Homo sapiens: one gene and its partner. The protein of the gene in region 1 purifies or fractionates together with the protein of each later gene. This does not show direct contact. Each region holds a gene or a part of one and is shown on either strand. Other genes may lie near its edges.

The links.
Region 2: the proteins of LONP1 (region 1) and EMC2 purify together in Homo sapiens (affinity purification with mass spectrometry; 2 studies listed by BioGRID, with this or other methods). This does not show direct contact.

Annotation. Positions count from the first base shown.
Region 1 is NC_000019.10:5,703,139-5,712,832, reverse strand, and holds part of LONP1 (lon protease homolog, mitochondrial isoform 1 precursor), read left to right. Parts: intron 1-830; coding exon 831-1,062; intron 1,063-4,429; coding exon 4,430-4,491; intron 4,492-5,006; coding exon 5,007-5,136; intron 5,137-5,689; coding exon 5,690-5,773; intron 5,774-6,840; coding exon 6,841-7,061; intron 7,062-8,614; coding exon of another isoform or gene 8,615-8,717; exon of another isoform or gene 8,718-9,102; intron 9,103-9,694. UniProt on the Homo sapiens protein: ATP-dependent serine protease that mediates the selective degradation of misfolded, unassembled or oxidatively damaged polypeptides as well as certain short-lived regulatory proteins in the mitochondrial matrix.
Region 2 is NC_000008.11:108,465,750-108,475,443, reverse strand, and holds part of EMC2 (ER membrane protein complex subunit 2), read right to left. Parts: intron 5,619-9,694; coding exon 5,533-5,618; intron 5,383-5,532; coding exon 5,323-5,382; intron 4,591-5,322; coding exon of another isoform or gene 4,461-4,590; exon of another isoform or gene 4,281-4,460; intron 1-4,280. UniProt on the Homo sapiens protein: Part of the endoplasmic reticulum membrane protein complex (EMC) that enables the energy-independent insertion into endoplasmic reticulum membranes of newly synthesized membrane proteins.

The DNA of each region.
Region 1 (9,694 bases):
TAGCGAGATCCCATCTCTGCAAAAAATGTAGAAAAATTAGCTGGATGTGGTGGCTCATGCCTGTGGTCACAGCTACGCAAGAGGCTGAGGTGGGAGGATCGCTTAAGCCCAGGAGTTTGAGACCAGCCTGGGCAACACAGCAAGACCCTGTTTCTATAAAAAATAATAAAAAGTTAGATGTGACGGCGTGTTCCTGTAGTCCCAGCTACTTGGGAGGCTGAGGCAGGAGGATTGCTTGAGCCCAGGAGGTAAAGGCTGCAGTGAGCTATGATCACACCACTGCACTCCAGCCTGGGCAACAGAGCGAGACCCTGAGTTCAGGTGGTGCCAGGTGCTCTGAGGGGAGACGCAGACAGCGTGAGAGGTGGAGGTGGGTAGCTTTTGTGAAGTGCTTGGGGACAGTCTTTGCGATGGTGTCCTTGAAATCGAGACCTGAACAACAGGAAGGAGCTGCTATGAGCTGAGTCCAGGGCACAGAGTCTTGGAGACCAGCCTGTGCCCGGCCAGGCTGACACCGTTTTCGACAGGAGGCCCTGGGGCTTGTCACTGCAGCTTATCCACGATACTTAGGATGGGGACAGTGATGCATTGGCGTGGGATGCAGGGAATGCCTGAATCTGGCTGGAGTCTAAGGGGTGGAGGGGACACTGGTTGGGAGGCCCCGAGAAAGCGGCTCACGTCTCCAGCTTGAGGACCCTGTAGCCACCCTGTGGCTCCAGAGGTCTGGGCTCAGCGGGACCCTTGGACCACCTGTGCCACCAGGGAGGCCTCAGCCGGGTCCAGCTCCCAGCCTCAGCGGCTGATTCACACCTGCCTTGCTCCCGTGTCAGAGTCCATATCAGCAGACAGCTGGAGGTGGAGCCCGAGGAGCCGGAGGCGGAGAACAAGCACAAGCCCCGCAGGAAGTCAAAGCGGGGCAAGAAGGAGGCGGAGGACGAGCTGAGCGCCAGGCACCCGGCGGAGCTGGCGATGGAGCCCACCCCTGAGCTCCCGGCTGAGGTGCTCATGGTGGAGGTAGAGAACGTTGTCCACGAGGACTTCCAGGTCACGGAGGAGGTGAAAGTGAGTCCGTGCGTCACGCAGGGCGGCCACAGCTGCCTCCCCCACGGGCTCCCTTGAGCCGTTCCTGCGGCCTCTCCGAAGAGTCATCTCCCACCCTGAGCCCCTTAGGAAGGGTCTGGCCTGTCTGGAACTCAATTCTAATGGAACATAGAGGGTGCTTTTCCTCCCAGAGGTCTTCGGAAGACTCTGGGATGGGAGAGGCACAGGAAATTCGCTGGAGCCTGTAGCTGCTCAGGAAGGAGACAGGGTTGGAACCCAGGTCCAGCCCCAGCCCGTGTCCCCTGTGCCAAAGCCTCCAGCGGTTACCAAGACACCTTCCAGCCCTGGCTTCTTCCCACCAAGCCTGGGAGGTTGGTACCAGTGGTTGCAGGACAGGAAACAGCCTGTTGGCCACCCTGATCCCCCAACCTAGGCCGTCCTGCCTGCCTGGTGGCACAAGGAGTCAGCTTCCGAGGTGGGCAGGCTCTTGGCGGTGCCACCTGCCCTCCCGCTGTAGGGACAGTCAGCGAAGCTAACCAAAGGCCTGAAGCGTGTCAGCTCCTTACCTGTGTGCCTGGTGTCATCAGCCTCTTCCCCAGGCTGCTGCAGGGCCTAGGGGGAAGTGCTGTGAGCAACTGGTGATGTCTGCTGTGGGCGCTGGCAGGGGTGGAAAGTCCTGTCCACAGGCCCACCTGGGTTCTTGAGGTCAGCACTTCTATCCTGCCCCACTACCCCTGCGAGGTTTTTTTTTTTCTTTCTTTTTTTGAGACAGAGTCTGGCTCTGTCAACCCAGGCTGGAGTGCAATGGAACGATCTCAGCTCACTGCAATTTCCACCTCCCAGGTTCAAGTGATTCTCATGCCTCAGCCTCCCAAGTAACTGGGATTGCAGGCACGTGCCACCACACACGGCTAATTTTTGTATTTTTAGTAGAGACGAGGTTTTACCATGTTGGCCGGGCTAGTCTCAAACTCCTGACCTCGGGTGATCCGCCCACCTCAGCCTCCCAAAATGCTGGGATTATAGTCGTGAGCCACTGTGCCCGGCCACCTGTGAGTATTGAGCACTTGAAGTAGAGCTGCTGTGGCCAAGGAACAGAATGGAACATTTTATTGGCTGGGTACAGTGTCTCATGCCTGTCATCCCAACACTTTTGGAGGCCAAGGAAGGAGGATCACTTGAGCCCTGGAGTTCAAAACCAGCCTGGGCAATATTGAGACCCCTGTCTCCACAAAAAAAATAAAATCCCTGGGCATGGTCGCACACACCAGTGGTCTAACCTGTGGGAGGATCGCTTGAGCCCAGGAGATTGAGGCTGCAGTGAGCTGTGATCGCATCACTGCACTCCAGCCTGGGCAACAGAGTGAGACCCTGTATCTAAAAATTAAAATAAAAAAATTCAGGCCGGGCACGGTGGGCTCACGCCTGTAATCCCAGCACTTTGGGAGGCCGAGGTGGGCGGATCACCTGAGGTCAGGAGTTTGAGACCAGCCTGACCAACATGGAGAAACCCCGTGTCTACTAAAAATACAAAAAAAAATTAGCCAGGTGTGGTGGCTTATGCCTGTAATCCCAGCTACTCGGGATTACTGAGGCGGGAGAATTGCTTGAACCTGGGAGGCAGAGGTTGCGGTGAGCCGAGATTGCACTATTGCATTCCAGCCTGGGCAACAAGAGCAAAACTCTGTCTCAAAAAAAAAAAAAAAAAATTCAGACAGCCACCAGCGGCTACACTGTCCTGGGCAGCTCAGCATTGGGGCATTCCCTGTGAGAATCTTGCAACAGGGGGAAGACAGCGACCAAACTTACAAATGTGATTAGAACTGGCAAGACCCCTTAGGGGCAGCGAACTTGTTCTTTTTTTTTTTTTTTTTTTTTTTTTTTGAGATGGAGCCTCTGTCGCCCAGGCTGGAGTGCAGTGGCGTGATCTCGGCTCACCGCAAGCTCCACCTCCCGGGTTCACACCATTCTCCTGCCTCAGCCTCCCCAGTAGCTGGGACTACAGGTGCCCGCCACCACACCCGGCTAATTTTTTGTGTATTTTTTAGTAGAGACGGGGTTTCACCGTGTTAGCCAGGATGGTCTGGATCTCCTGACCTCGTGATCCGCCCGCCTTAGCATCCCAAAGTGCTGGGGTTACAGGCGTGAGCCACTGTGCCCAGCTGAACTTATTCTTAAAGCAAGTGCCCCGGACCTCCAGTGGGCCTGTTCTGGTGCCTTCTACCAGGGTCAGCTCAGACAGTTCAGCGTCAAAGCCAAAGACTAGAGACCAGGTGATTACGGTTTCTTTGGAGACAGAGTCTCACCCTGTCACTCAGACTGGAGTGCACTGGCGCAATCTTGGCTCATGGCAACCTCCGCCTCCTGGGTTCAAGTGATTCTCCTGCCTCGGCCTCCTTAGTAGCTGGGATTACAGTCACCCACCAAAGTACCTGGCTAATTTTTTTTTTTTTTTTGGTATTTTTAGTGGAGATGGGGTTTCACCGTGTTGGCCAGGCTGGTCTTGAGCTCCTGGCCTCAAGTGACCCACCTAACTCTGCCTCCCAAAGTGTTGGTGTTACAGGTGTGAGCCACCGCGCCCGGCCAAGACCAGGTGATTAAAATTTGGTTGTAGGCAGGTGCAGTTGCTTATGCCCGTGGTCCCAGCTACTCCGGAAAATGAGCGGGGAGGATCGCTTGAGCCCAAGAATTCAAGGCTGCAGTGAGTCATGATTGCAGCCCTGCACGCCAGCCTGGGTGACAGAGCAAGACTTGGTCTTTTTTTTTTTTTTTTTTTTTTGAGACAGAGTCTCGCTCTTTCGCCCAGGTTGGAGTGCAGTGGCGCGATCTCGGCTCACTGCAAGCTCCATCTCCTGGGTTCACGCCATTCTCCTGCCTCAGCCTCCCGAGTAGCTGGGACTACAGGCGCCCGCCATCACGCCCGCCTAATTTTTGTATTTTTTGGTAGAGACGGGGTTTCACTGTGTTAGCCAGGAGGGTCTCGATCTCCTGACCTCATGATCCACCCGCCTCGGCCTCCCAAAGTGCTTGGATTACAGGCGTGAGCCACCACGCCCGGCCAAGACTTGGTCTCTTAAAAAATGGAGGAAAGAAAACACAGTCTCTTTTTTTCCCCTGAGATAGCTTATCCTAAGGACAAGGCTCTGAGGGGTAAGGAGACAGGGTTTGGTTTTAGTTTTGACTCTCTTGGTCCTGTGTCCCTGGGACTGGTGAGTCCACCAGGGACTGCACTCCTCCATCTCCCAGGCCGTCCGTGGCCAGGGCCAGTTGGCGGAGGGGAGGGAGTTGATGGAGCTGGTGGGTGGGGCTCCCAGGGCCATGCTCCCACCCAGCCCACCCCCTGCTGGAGCACTGCTGGGCCCCAGCGACCCTGCCCCATACTTGGCAGGCCCTGACTGCAGAGATCGTGAAGACCATCCGGGACATCATTGCCTTGAACCCTCTCTACAGGTGGGCCTCTGTGCGGGCAGCTGGCCAGGCGGGGGCATCTCTGCAGCTCTTTCTGCAGCTGGGTGGGTAGGGGGCTTCCTCAGCGTCCTCCTGGGAGGAAACCTTGCCTGCCCCAAGGAGTGGCCTGTGTGGAGGAGCCCGTTGCCCACTGGGGCATGGGGCAGGTGGGAGGCCCGGGGCCGACTCAGCAGGCCCAGTTTCTTTGTCCCCTTCTGCTGAGGCCGGAAGCTGTTGGTGGCATTGGCTGGGGGAGTGGGGAGCAGACTGCTGAGGTGAGGTCACTGCACGGCTCCCGTGGTGGCTGCACGTGAGGATGCTGCATGCCTTTCCAGCCCAGGACGGGTGGGCCCTGAACTCTGGAGAACAAGCAGCAGAGCTGGCTCCCAGCGAGCACCCCTAGACCGTGCCCATAGCTACAGGGGACAGGGACCCTGAGGACCGGGTCCCCGTTTGGGGGCTGCACTGCAGCAGAGCGTGAGGCCCTGGCCACCGAGGCAGCTCCCTTTGTCCCCCAGGGAGTCAGTGCTGCAGATGATGCAGGCTGGCCAGCGGGTGGTGGACAACCCCATCTACCTGAGCGACATGGGCGCCGCGCTCACCGGGGCCGAGTCCCATGAGCTGCAGGACGTCCTGGAAGAGACCAATGTGAGTGCTCGTCACCTCCACAGCCCCCCACGCCTGGCTGCACCCCACCTCCACTATGCTCCGCCCACGCCCGGCTGCCCCCGTTCCTCCTCAGCTCCCCCATGCCTGGCTGCCCTTGTCCCTCCACCGTGCACCATCCACACCCAGCTGTGTGTCCCTGGCTCTGTTTTTGAGATGATTTCCCGCTGCGTGTCTTGGTCCACATCCATCCGCCTTTCGGTGGCTTCATAGCCTTCGGTTGGGAGTCACCGTTGCGGGTTCAGTGGGATCCTCTGGGCCGTGTACCCGGGGCGTTGCCAGTCTTTTGCTGTTGTGAGCAGCACTCCTGAGCGCGTCCCCATGCACGCAGCTGGAGGGCCTGTGAAGTATCCGTAGGATGCGTTTCCAGCACGGGATTTGTTGGGGCAGAGGGCACACATGCCTCTGTGCTGGGTACAGCATGGCCAGGTCCTCCCGGCAGCATCTCTCAGGGTGCGCATTTTCCCCCAACCTCGGCCCTACACACACAGATGCCGACTTCTGCTCATCCTTTCTGTCCTCCCTGTCTCGGCAGATTCCTAAGCGGCTGTACAAGGCCCTCTCCCTGCTGAAGAAGGAATTTGAACTGAGCAAGCTGCAGCAGCGCCTGGGGCGGGAGGTGAGCCCGCGGCTGAGGCGCAGCCACTCTTGGGGGCCTTCCCCTCGGGCCACGTGACATCAGTCAGGCTCTGGAGCACACGGAGGGACCGGTGGCATCGGCCAGGGCAAGCCAAGAAGGCCTGTCTGGGTTTTGAGGGCTTCGTGCCATCATCTGCTCTGTCGTCCTGGGCTGTGGAACTCTCCGCGTTGAACAGGGAAGCTTAAAGCTGGTCCCAGTGTAATGAGCCCAGGGTGGAGCAGTCTCAGGACCGTCCAACATTAAGGGAAGAATTCCTTTGCCTTTGTAATCTTGGGGACAGTGTTGGAAATTGGAAAGCAGCCTGGGAAAAGTGAAGATGCTGTTTCTTAAGACCCAGCCATTGAGGCTCGCTGTCATGATTTTCGGCAGATCACAGCCTGCCTGATGGCCGGTCACCTCACGGTCGTAGCATTTTTCAGAATTTTTTACTTTAAGACAGGGTCTCAGTCGGCCACCTAGGCTGGAGTGCAATGGCGCAATCTCAGCTCACTACAGCCTCCACCTCCAGGGCTCAAGTGATCCTCCCACCTCAGCCTCCCGAGTAGCTGGGATTACAGGCGTGCAATACCACACCGGCTAATTTTTGTATTTTAGTAGAGACAGGGTTTCACCATGTTGGCCAGGCTGGTCTTGAACTCCTGGCCTCAAGTGATCCGCCCGCTTCAGCCTCCCAAAGTGCTAGGATTACAGGCGTGAGCCACCGCGCCTGGCCCCATCTCTACAAAAAATTTTAAAATTAGAGCCAGGTGTGGCAGGTGCCTGTGGTCCCAGTTACTCAGGAGGCTAAGGCAGGAGGATCGCTTGAGCCCAGGAGGTGGAGGCTACGGTGAGCTATGATGGTGCCTTTGCACTCCAGCCTGGGTAACACAGGTAGACCCTGTCTCAAAAACAAAAGAAGATGGAAGGAACCAAAGGCTTCGTGCTCTGGGTTTCGTTTCTTTTCTCTCTGAGTCCTGGGGGAGCAGAGGGTCCCCCTTCGTCTGGGGACGCACCCACCCACCCAGCTTCCCGGAGCCAGGGCCTGATGGCAGCACCTCACCCCACAGGTGGAGGAGAAGATCAAGCAGACCCACCGTAAGTACCTGCTGCAGGAGCAGCTAAAGATCATCAAGAAGGAGCTGGGCCTGGAGAAGGACGACAAGGATGCCATCGAGGAGAAGTTCCGGGAGCGCCTGAAGGAGCTCGTGGTCCCCAAGCACGTCATGGATGTTGTGGACGAGGAGCTGAGCAAGCTGGGCCTGCTGGACAACCACTCCTCGGAGTTCAAGTGAGTGCCAGGCCCGGGGCGGCCCAGCCCTCAGGTGACCCCTCCTCAGCCCCCATCTTAGGCAGGCCAGGGGACCCAGCGGGGAGCCCCGTGGCACCTTCTTGGTGTGGCAGGTGCGGGCTGGGAGGCATCCAGCGAGTATCAGCCCTGTTCTGGGCAGGACACATCATCACCATCTCCATTCTACAAGGAAATCGAGGCTCGGGGCTGTTGAGCTGGTGGCCAGGGCCTGTGAATTGGCAGGTGGTGCCACGGATTTGAGCCCAGGGACGCCTGGCTCTAAGCCAGGGCTGCTTTTTTTTTTTTTTTTTTTTGAAATGGAGTCTCGCTCAGTTGTCCAGACTGGAGTGCAGTGGCACAATCTTGGCTCACTGCAACTTCCGCTTTGCGGGTTCAAGCAATTCTCCTGCTTCAGTCCCCCAAGTATCTGGGACTATAGGCATGCACCACCACGCCTGGTTAATTTTTTGTATTTTTAGGAGACATGGGGTTTCACCATGTTGTTCAGGCTGGTCTCGAACTCCTGACCTCAAATGATCCGGCTGCCTTGACCTGCCAAAGTGCTAGGATTACAGGCGCGAGCCACCATGCCTGGCTTTTTTTTTTTTTTAAGACAGAGTCTTGCTCTGTTGTCCAGGCTGGAGTACAGTGGTGCAATGTTGGTTCACTGCAACCTCCACCTCCCAGGTTGAAACGATTCTACTGCCTCAACTTCCTGAGTAGCTGGGATTACAGGCATGTGCCACCACACCCAGCTAATTTTTAGTATTTTTAGTAGAGATGGGGTTTTGCCATGTTGGCCAGGTTGGTCTCAAACTCCTGACCTCAAGGGATCCGCCCACCTTGCCCTCCCAAAGTGCTGGGATTACAGGCATGAGCCACCACGCCTGGCCTAAGCCAGGCCTTCTCGCCAGGACCAGGAGTCCCCATGGCTGTCTTTGCAAGGCTACCCCTGGCTTCTGTTGCCCCTTCGAGAGTCAGCCAGGAAGTGACCATGCCTTCCCGCAGCACTGGCCTTGCCCGGGGGCCACTGTCCTGAGCATGCCATGAGTCAGGGTGGCCGCCCCAGGTTTGAGGGCCTCAGGTACCTCTGAGATCCTTTCAGCCATGCCCATGTCCAGCCAGGACAGAACCCACCTGGCCACTTCCCATGCAGCATGCTCTGTTTTCAGCCCAGGAACCAGTTGTCACGCCAGGGCAGCTTCTAGGCAGAAGTCCCCGGGGCAGGGCTGGGCAGGCCGTAGGACAGCGCTTAGAGGGAAGGCATGAGTTTCTTTCCTGGCTGCTGGCCCAGGACCCCGCCTCAGATTTGAATGTCACGGTCGCCGGAGTCTCTCCCCCAGGGCCCTGAGAGGCACTGGTTGCGCGCGAAGGCTGTGGCTTCCCCTCCCAGCACGCCCCGATTTCGGTGAGTGGCCTGTGAGCTCCCATGGCTGCTCCGACGGTGCCACAACTTAGTGCCTTACACAATGCCGAGCCCTGAGATCCCGCTGTGGGCCGGGCCCGTCCCTCCCAGAGGCTCCAGAGGAGAATCCGTTTCCTGCCTTTCCCAGTATCTGGAGGCGCCCGCATCCCTCGGCTCGGGGCCCCTTCCTCCTTCACAGCCACAGCGCAGCCTCTTCCAGTCAGTCTCTCACCTCCCACCGCCTGTCGTGAGGACCTGGTGAGGAACCTGGGCCCCCTGGGTCACCCAGAATGCTCTCCTGTCTCGGGGACCTTCACTCAGCCCCATCTGCAGTTCCCTGCTGCCATGTGAGAGGCCTGTGCCGCCGCCTCCTGTGGGGGGAGAACGTAGATGTTTTCGGGGTTCTTCTGTCTCCCAGCGAGTGCCTCAGCTGCCCTTGGGCTGGTGGAAGTACCTGCTCAGACCGGGCCTTGTCCTGCAGAAGCAGATAGCTCCTTCCCCCAGGAGCTGAGGGGGTCTGTAAGGCGGGTTCTGTCCTCAGGTCCTGGGAAGTCACGGGGGACAAGCCCTCAGTACCTGCGTGTCACCAAGATGCCTGCAGCAGGCTGCCAGCTACCTCTCCCACCCAGAATGCTCTCCGCAAAGTGTCACTGCCTGTGTCACTTCCACAGTGACTTCATGTGTCTCTAAACTCCAGCATCCGTGTGGCCCAGCTGGCCTGTCCCGGTGCGTCTCGTATGCCCGTTGGGTGGCAGTGCGCCCTGACGGTGTCTGCTCGTGGGGCCGCCTGGCCCTTCCTCGGAAGCCGTCCTCCTCTTCATCCTCTTCCCCAATCCTGCCGTGTGCTCTTGCAGCCCTCACTGACTTGCTCCTGGCCCATAGTGGCCGCTGCTCACTGCTGCACGGCTCCCAACTTGGGGACCAATATGGAGTTGCCCTCCCAACCTTCAGCGTCACTCTCCCGGCAGGGGACCTGGCCTCCATTTCCCCACCTGCCCTGGGTCAGGCCTTGTCCCATTTTCTAAGCCTCGTCCCCTCTGTGGTTCTGCTCACTCAGCCCTGGGCAGAAGCCAGTGCCGTCTTGGCTCTCCTGATGAGTCAGCAGTGGACCTCCGGCCATCTCCTCCTTCCTGCACTGGGTGCTTTGGACAGGGCAGTTTGTAAATTTTTTTTTTTTTTTTTTTTTGAGATGGAGTCTCACTCTGTTGCCCAGGCTGGAGTGCAGTGG
Region 2 (9,694 bases), on another chromosome or scaffold:
TTCACAGGCATATATTTACCAACATATTCTATTACAAAGATTTCTCTCATTACTTAAGTTCACTGTCAAATACCAAATTATAATGAAGTTATAAATTTCTAAGCCCATGAAAAACAGATCAAGTTGGTTTTGATATATACTGTACTATTATTTAATCTTGTGGTAGAATAAACAAAAATCTTGCTGAAAACCTAAGGAAAGAGAACTGCCAGAAAGAGCTCTGGAAAAACATTTTAAAGCATGTGACTGTAATTCACTAAATATATTTTAAACGTTTAATGCCATGTGACTATCCTCACTATCTACAGGAAATTCTAATGAACACAGGTGTTACAAGATTTCTTCCCAGTGAGGAAGTGATGACACTACCCAACAAAAAGAGGCTACCTAAAGTTATTTTTGGCATTTACCAGTATACAAAGGGATCTACCTTTACACTACTGCCTGATATACTTTTAAAAATTATTTTCCTGTTTCACACATGTATACTAATAATAGCTTTTACTAAATGCTTATTACGTGTCATGCATTGTTCTAAATGTGTTACATGTATTAACTCATTTAATCCTACCAAAACCCTAGGAAGAAGGAAATTATTATCAACATGCTAGAGCTGAGAATACTGAGGCACAGAGATGTAAACTGAATCCCAGGCTGTGCCACTCCAGACAGCCTGTACTCTTCAACCACTACATATGCTGCTTATATGCATTACACATCACATTGAAAAACTGAAGATGTCAATGGTAACATGAAAATGTGTACAGCAGTCACACCCAAAGGGACTGAGGAAAAAAAATACACCCTGCAGATTACCTAATAATTACAGCATTTTAGATTTATGAAGGACCACATATATATATGTATGTGTGTGTGTGTGTGTGTGTGTACTCTCATCCAAGATCATGCAGCTATTTAGCCCTTTCCATTTTTAAATTCAAAACCTAGCATTGGTTCTTGACACATGATAGGTATTTAATAAGACTGAACAAATGATTGAATAAATGTCTAAAACAAATGTGTTATGACTACCTACCTAATATATATTTATCACTCGAAAAGAAAAGGGAAAATTTGTCTCTACCTTAAACACTTTATCAAAAGACAGTTCTCTTCTAAATGTGTTCCTTTAATTATTAATAGTATGATGCCAAAAATTCATATTGAGACTAAGAATAAAAGTTCTTAGACATTTAAATGGGTTGAGCACAACTGTGACACTGGTGCATAAAGCAAGATAAAATGGGCAGGTAGTAGCAGCTCTTAGGGTAAAATGAATACCAAGATATTTTCTCAAAAATCAATTAGCATCACATATGAGAAAAGGACTCCTTCCCCCAATTTTATAAAGTACAGTATCAAACTAATTTTGTGGATAAAATATAGAATTAAATAAAATTAGAGCTAGAAGGAGCTCAACAGATGGTCTAGTCCAGCTTTTCTAGGCCATTGTTAGGCCACGCAGAAAGTGACTATTTCCTCAGTCTTGTCAGGGATAATACATAGCCAGTACTATTCTAGGTGCATAGAGAAGTTAATTCATTACACACAGTGACTCAACAAGACTAAGAATAGAGAAGTAAAAATAATTTGAATCTACTTAAAACAGAATAACAATTGTTATTACAATATTAGAGTCAGTACTAGAACTAAATAAAGTTTTCTTCTCTTCCTTACAAAAGTATATATAACTAAAGGTTACAGTATTTGGTACTGTGTGTTACTTTACCAACATCACAATTTTTCCTTAAAGAATTGTGGTAATTCCGTTGATATGGAATTTTAAAAGGCTGGACTTATGAAAAGGAACTATAATCACAATCATAATTAATGTATAATACTAACTGTTCCTTGCTGTATAGTATCTAGTTTCAATAACAAATGAAGTAAAAAAATTTGTCTTTCATAATGTGAATGTATTTTTGCTTACAAAGGTTGGGTATCCCTTAACCAAAATGCTTGGGACCAGAAATGTTTCAGATTTCAGAAGTTTTCAGATTTTAAAATATCTGCATTCTTACTGGTTGAACATCCCTAACGCAAAAATCCCAAATCCAAAATGCTCCAATGAGCATTTCCTTTGAGCATCATGTTGGCACTCAAAGTTTCAGATTTTGGAGTATTGTGGATTTCAGATTTTCAGGTTATGGATACTTAACCTATAATACATATTGGTAGTGCTGACACAAAAAAATTAACTGTAGTTTTAAAACTTTAGAACAAGTGTCTCAATATGGTCAATGGATGTAACATATATCCCTGGAATAACTAAAAACAAACTATAAATCAGAAACAAACTTATAAAAGTAACTTAAAAATATAAAAAGGTTACATGGCACAATTCTATATCCCTTTTTCTCTCTATAGAAACATTAAATAGGGCTATATGAAAATTATACTATAGATATTTATTTGGAGTTTAAAAATTCCAGAGCTGGGCACAGTGACACACCTGTAGTGCCAGCTACACAAAAGGCTGAGGTGGGAAGAGTACTTTAGCCCAGGAGCTCAAGTCTAGCCTGGGAAATGTTGTAGACTCTGTCTCTTAAAGAAAAAAAATAGTTCTAGATATAGGCTACCAAAGCTGCCTGCGACCTATTATACTTAAAAAAGCTTACAACTGTTCATATGCAGAAAGGAATATCGAATGTTAAATATATCTGACATTTTCGAAACTGCTACGTTTTTGCCACTGTGTCCCCAAGACTGGTGCTAAAACTGATATCCTACGATAATTTAACATTCCATCAAAAAATTCCTGCCTCCTATAATGACTTGCTCAAACATGTCAAATGAATCAAGTGAACTGATTGTAATTTTCACAGTTTCAAAAAAACCTGTAGATATGCATTTCCAGTCACCTAAACATAAATATTCCTTCTAAGTGTTCAATTAGAAAAAAAAAATGGTCATTTTGTAACTAACTAGCTTTAAGACCAAAAAGAGTTTTGTGATACTAGATAAAAGGGTAGGCTGACCATAATTATCATTTTCTCTAAAAAAATATTTTTAGGTGCTCCTACATCTTTGTAAATCTTCATTTTTTGAGATTTCTCAGTTCATTTCTCTTAAGTGTACATTCACCTCTGTTTCAATAAACTCTTTAGATTCCAAACAAAGCAAAACTGAAGGTGGTACCACATGGTGAAAAAAATAAGTAAATTTAATGGTAGGTTAAAAATAAGGTATAACCTAAATTTGATGATGAAATAAATATTAGAAATACATGCAAAAAAATAAAATTGCAAATGAAGTAGGGGGAAAAGGTGATATATTTTTAAGCTATTAAAGGACAGCAGACATGATAATGTTAAAAATTGATGAATCTGATTTTCTAAAAATGTAAAGTTTCTATAATTTTAAGAAGTCAGTATTTAAAAAGCATATAACAAGGATATACTTTTGACAAATGGTTGCTCTCCTTTATAAAAAGAGCTCGTAAAAATGAACTAAAAAGGTAGAACCAATTTCACCTATCAAACTTGTAAAGATTAAAAAAGAATCATAGTATCCAGTGTTGTTAAAGAGGGACTCTAGTAAATGCTGGTGTGCAAGTAAATTGATGTTACCATTCTAGGGAACAATCAGGAACTATTTATCAAAACCACAGAAAATGTACATCTTATTTAATCAAGCAATTTTACTTCAAAGAATTTAACCCAAGGAAACAAAATAAAAATGATCACTACAGCATTATATATAAAAATATAAAACAACCTTTATATCTCCCTAGGAAACTCGTTAAAAATACTAGGGTAAATTAGTAAGATGAAATAATATAAAGCCATTCAAAACACACTGTAGATTGTTACAGTGACAAGAAATTTTTGAACAAAATATAACTAAGGGAAAGTATAAACTACGGAAGATAATTTTATTTTGGGCTTTTATTTTAAAAGATAAGGAAGGACAAAAACCAAACAAACTATAGTTAACTTAGGATGCTGGAATTACATGTAATTTTTGTCTTGGTCTTTATGCTTTACTGTGTTTCTCAAATTTTCTGCATTAGGTATTCCTTTAACTTGAAAAAAAAAATTTCCTTGTTGATTTGAAATGTTTTAAAATGCTTTTAGTCAGAAAATCTTTAGAAAGTACAAAAAATGTTAAATGACTGTCACCTGTTTTAGAAACAAAATAAAATTAATGCTAATTATTTTTACTATACTCTAAAAATTCAATTTCATGTATTTAAATATAAGTATTATATACTGTTTCACATGTGTAAGAAATCATGAGTATGTTTACATATGTGTACATACAAGCATATCATCTATACTGAATGTGATTCAGGAAATAATTTCCTAATCAAAACCAGAATATCTGTTTCAGAGTATAGCAGAGAACTTGAAAAACAGTTCCTAGAATATAGTATACATTCATTAAATTACAGCTATTACTTTTATTTTAGCTCCCACTTTCCTTAGACTTATGCAAATAGACTACCTCAATCCTCTAGATCACATTATATATATAGACCACAGACAATAGACAAATGTCTTCATTCTGTTTCTCATCAGTTGTTTGTAGTATGAGAACAAGGTTAAATATTCATGCACAAGAAAATGCGCATGAGAATCTGATTCTATTCTGTCAAAAAGAAGGAAAAGAAACAATGTCATATACTTCAGATTTAGAAGAACTAAGAAAAAAAATAAAAAACACGCCTCTAGATGGAGGTTAGCATTAATGCTGTAATATTAGAAAACTTGCACTAAGACTCTGGACTAATCCTCTCACACTGGGATTTCCTCCTGTCACTACAGCAATAAAAAAGCTAACAAAAACATTAAACATCCAATAAGCAAGATCCTAGAGCATTCAACATTCTTGATTATTCTCAGTTTTTTACCCAGGCAACAGAATGCTTCTACTTTGGAAGAGTTGATTCTCTTAGTACTAAGGCTAATACATGCATACAATTGACAGAATTTTTAAACAGCAGGGAGTATAATACTCTTTGTATATAAGAACAATCTGAACTCTAAAAATTCACAATTTTGATTTACCAAAAATAAACTTAGCTTAGCAAATGCAGGCCTTTTTATTTCCAAAGAATGCCATCTATATTTGAAAGAAAAACTTATTTCCTAAACATAAACAATTTGGCAAAACACAAATGACCTAGTTAAAGCTATTCACTTATTATGACCAGTGAATTACTGATTTGTTCTTTTTCATTTAATTGTTGATTTGTTCTGTTTCTCATTTCAAATGACATGATTCACACCCTCTCACCAATCCTTTGGAAACCACAGTGCTTTCTGAACTTACAGTGATGAAAACTGCACTCAACAAAATGTTGTGTGTTTAATAACTTACTCATGTTCATTGATGTAAAGTTCTGCAAGTTCATGCCAGGCTTCTTGGTCTCCAACAAATCTGGTGAGAGGAAAAGAAAAAAAAGTAAGTGTGTAGATATTCTGTAAATGAACAGCATGAAAACAAACAGGAAAATCAAATGCAAATTCCATTTTAATTAAAAAAGATTTATCAGAATAACAAAACACAATCCTCTTGTAAAATACTCACTGTTCCAGATACTCATTCAGCTCCCGAATGGCCTCCACATTTTTCCCCTGGGCTTTTCGAATGGCAATCTTACGCTTTCTTGCAGCCTGTGGGTTGACATTAATAAAGGATTAGGCCCTTATGATTCCTTGGGGTTTTGTAAAGAAGGTAATTTGACTGTGCAAATTATTATCTCAATGCCAGAGAAATTCCATTGTAGAACTACTGCTTAGTGGGAGTTTATAAACATACCCCATGACATCCCACTGGGGAATTCAAACATTCCTCTAACAATCACATATGCTTTACTTTTGATGCACACAATGTATGCATCGTTTCATCCAAATAAATAATCATCCAGATTCTGATAATTATTAACCAGCAGGGAATCTTAATCTTTATCCAACTTAAAGCCCTTTACTCTGTCTCATTCATAAGATCTGTATCCTAAGAGGGGGAGGAACAGTGGAGATTAGGGGAAAAAAAATCTCACCATGGCATGGCCTTTGAATATCATTATATAAATATGTCTTCTGACAACTTTTTCACAATTTTAAGAGAAAATCTACCTATGAGTCTTTCACAAGAATAATACAGTCCTGAAATAAATATTGTATGATAAGCAAAACAATTAGAAGCTGTATTCTAAAGTTTTTAAAATGATAAACATAAAAATCAATGCCATTTATTGTGCATTCATCAAATATGTACCAGACTTCTACTGTTTGCCAATATTGTGCTACACAATGAAAATATAAAGATAAAAAAGAAATGATAATTCCTTGCAGAAGCTCATTCTCATGACAAAAACGTATCAAATAAAAAAGTTAATGCAGTAAGAGCAATGACAGGGATATCTAGGGTGTTATGAAAATAAGGAAGAGATTCTGACACATGCTGTGTCAGAGTGGACGAACTGGAAAGACAGAAAGCAAAGACGGTCCCACATATGATACGTGTACTGAAACAAAGAGTAAGTAGACATTAAAAAACAAAACAGGAAGTTATTTATGGAAACTGCATAGTGGGAAGAACACATGAGCAAAGGCCTAGGAGAAAGCAGTACTGGCTGAAGTAAACAGTCAGGGACTGGAGCATACTGTATAAATTATTAAATTTACGTCCTCTCTATTTATGTTTGCTTCAAATACAGAAGGATAAACAATAAACCATACTATAACTGAGGCCAAGCTAAACTTATTAATTATGAATAAAATTTCTTATTGTTGATATAATATTCCACAAGATGCAGACAGAAGTAAAATGGATGTGGTCTCTTTACAGTATCAAGAGCTACTCATTACGGGGTGGTAAGAGAGTGATTTGGCTCTGAAGAAATGAAAGTGAAAGTTTAGAGAAATCAAGAGACTAATAAATAAGGGTCAGAGCAATGTTTATAATATTTTGGGTAATTAAAAAATGATGTTTTAATAATATATATCCTTAAGCATATCCTGAGAGTAAAAAAAATAAAAAATAAAAAAAGAATCTATATCCTTAATTAATCAGGTCATGGCAAAGGCCTTTAGCACAATGCCTGTCACATAGTAGGCACAAGCAAATATTTTTAAAATAAGTTTACTAAGTAAAACAAAAATGTGCCACAATAAATGCAAAGTTTTAAAAGTCTCAAGAACTCAGAAGAAAAGTAAAAGTAAAGCTCTGAAAGTAACTCAAACCCTAAAGCCATTAAGAATTTTAGACTTAAAATGGGAGCATTGTCCCTAGTCCTCCAAATAGATGAGGGATAAATTAACATATAATCAGGAAACTTTCGGCCATTTAATATCTGATTTCACCAAAATCTGAAACATAATTTAATCTTTCATTTTTCATGACATTACTTCTTCCATAGACAATATACAGAGCATAATGTCTGTTTTGAAATCCAAAAGACAAGAAACTGAATCCCAACTCTTATCACTTACTAGTTTTAACCTCTACAAACCTCAGTAATACCATCTATCTTCAAGCATCAATATAAAGCAACTAACACAGCATATAATAATATTAAATAAATGTTATCTTCCTTTCTTTAACATTTGGTTCTAGACTTAATGTTTACGTGTTAAACCTTGCCACAAAATTCTAACTAAGCAATCTTTAAAGGACTGGCACAGACTTGCTTTATTTGATATTTATATCTTGTCCCAATCCTTACAGGATTTGCAACAGCAGAGATGAGATACTGTAAGCAGTGAAAACTTGTTGAAAACAGTTGGATTCACCTGGGAGCAGTGGTGCATGCCTGTAATCTCAGCACTTTGGGAGGCTGAGGTGGGAAGATCACTTGAGCCCAGGAGTGAGAGACCAGCCTGGGCAACATAGTGAGACCCTGTCTCTACAAAAATAAAAATAAATAGACATTTTTAAAAAAGAAAATATTGCATACAAATGCCACAAATCAAACAAAAAAATTAGCTGAGCGTGGTGGTGTGCACCTGTAATCCCAACTACTTGGGAGGCTGAGGCAGGAGAATCAACTGAACCCGGGAGGTGGAGGTTGCAGTGAGCTGAGACTGCGCCACTGCACTCCAGCCTGGGCGACAGAGCGAGACTCGGTCTCAAAAAAAAAAAGCCACTTAAAGTCTTAAAGTTTTGCCACATAATTCAAAGCATATCTAAAATTTTAAACAATATACAAGGTATCATACATAAAATAACCAATTATAATAACAAAAACACTGGTTCAAAAAACTAAGATAAAAATAGAAACGCACATCTTAGTTTCCACGCATTCATACCAAACAGTACTGGACACTGAAGGAAGTATCTACTGCAGATCGGTAGCTATCTGCAGAATAAATGAATACATCACAAATTTTACAATTGGAAAGAACTGAGGAGCAGGCAGTGATAATTACATCTCTTCATTTTACATAGACAAAAAACAAAGCCCAGACTTACATTGCAAATCCTGGGACTCCTGAATCTGTTCATGTCTCTTTTTTGCCATAGTCTCTTGCTCTCTGGACACTTAATACTCAGCTGTCCAACTCCTTATTCATATAATGTCTAACTGTGAATAAAGAGTCCAGCAGCTTATCTCCCAAAAGCCACACAAAACCCTAGGTTTTGAATGATTATCAAGCAACCAGAATGAGGTTCAACAAGGCTTCTTGTGGCTTCTGGGTCTCATTTAGGGCACACAAAAAAGGCTTGTAAAAAAGACCAATTTTGGCCAGGTGCAGTGGTTCATGCCTGTAATCCCAACACTTTGGAAGGCCAAAGCGGGAGGATCATCTGAACCCAGGAGTTTCAGAACAACCTGGACAACACAGCAAAATGTTATCTCTACGAAAAATTTTAAAAGATTACTTGGGTGTGGTGGTACACGCCTGTAGTACTAGCTAATCAGGAAGCTGAGGTGGGAGATCGCTTGAGCCCAGGAGTCAGAGGTTACAGTGAGCTATAATTGCCTCACTGCAATCCAGCCTGGGCAACAGAGCGAGATCCTGTCTCAAAAAAAAAAAAAAAAAAAAAAAAAAAATTCTATCATAGCTTCCTTAGCATAATATTCTATAAAATAAAAATTATACTTAGATTTTTAAAAATAAAAACAAGTTATTAGTCTTCACATACTCTTCAACAGCAGCAAGTACAGTCTCGTTAACTGACTAAATTTAAATAATAAAATTTCTGTAGGGGTAACAGCTGGTTGTCACGTGTATTAACTACCTACTCTCAATCCCATTTACTACCATTGCTTCTTTCCTCATGATAAAGAGCCTTAATTTCTGAAATCAAAGTACCTATCCAGAATTTCTTACTAACTGTAAGATCTTGGGCAAGTCACTTAACTTCTCTATGACCTTGTATGCCTATAGAATAAAGACAATATCTGAAAGGATTATGATGACAATTAATGGGATAATATATGTAAAGTGTTTAGCTCAGTGATGGTCCATAGTAAATATCTGATAAACATTTCCTTTCTTCATTATCACATCATCATCATTTTCTTCAATTCTATCACTCCCTTTCACCATTTTCCTCATATTTATACTCTGTTCTGTAGAAAGCTGCAGCTTTTTCTCAGTTGTAAAGTAGAAATCTGGATGACCATATAAGTTGTTCTTTTAACTGAACATGCTTCACTTAAATGTTTTTTAAAAATTAACAAAATCACAGCTCAATAAACAAATTATATCATCCCTTAATAAATGCTAATAATTACATTTTT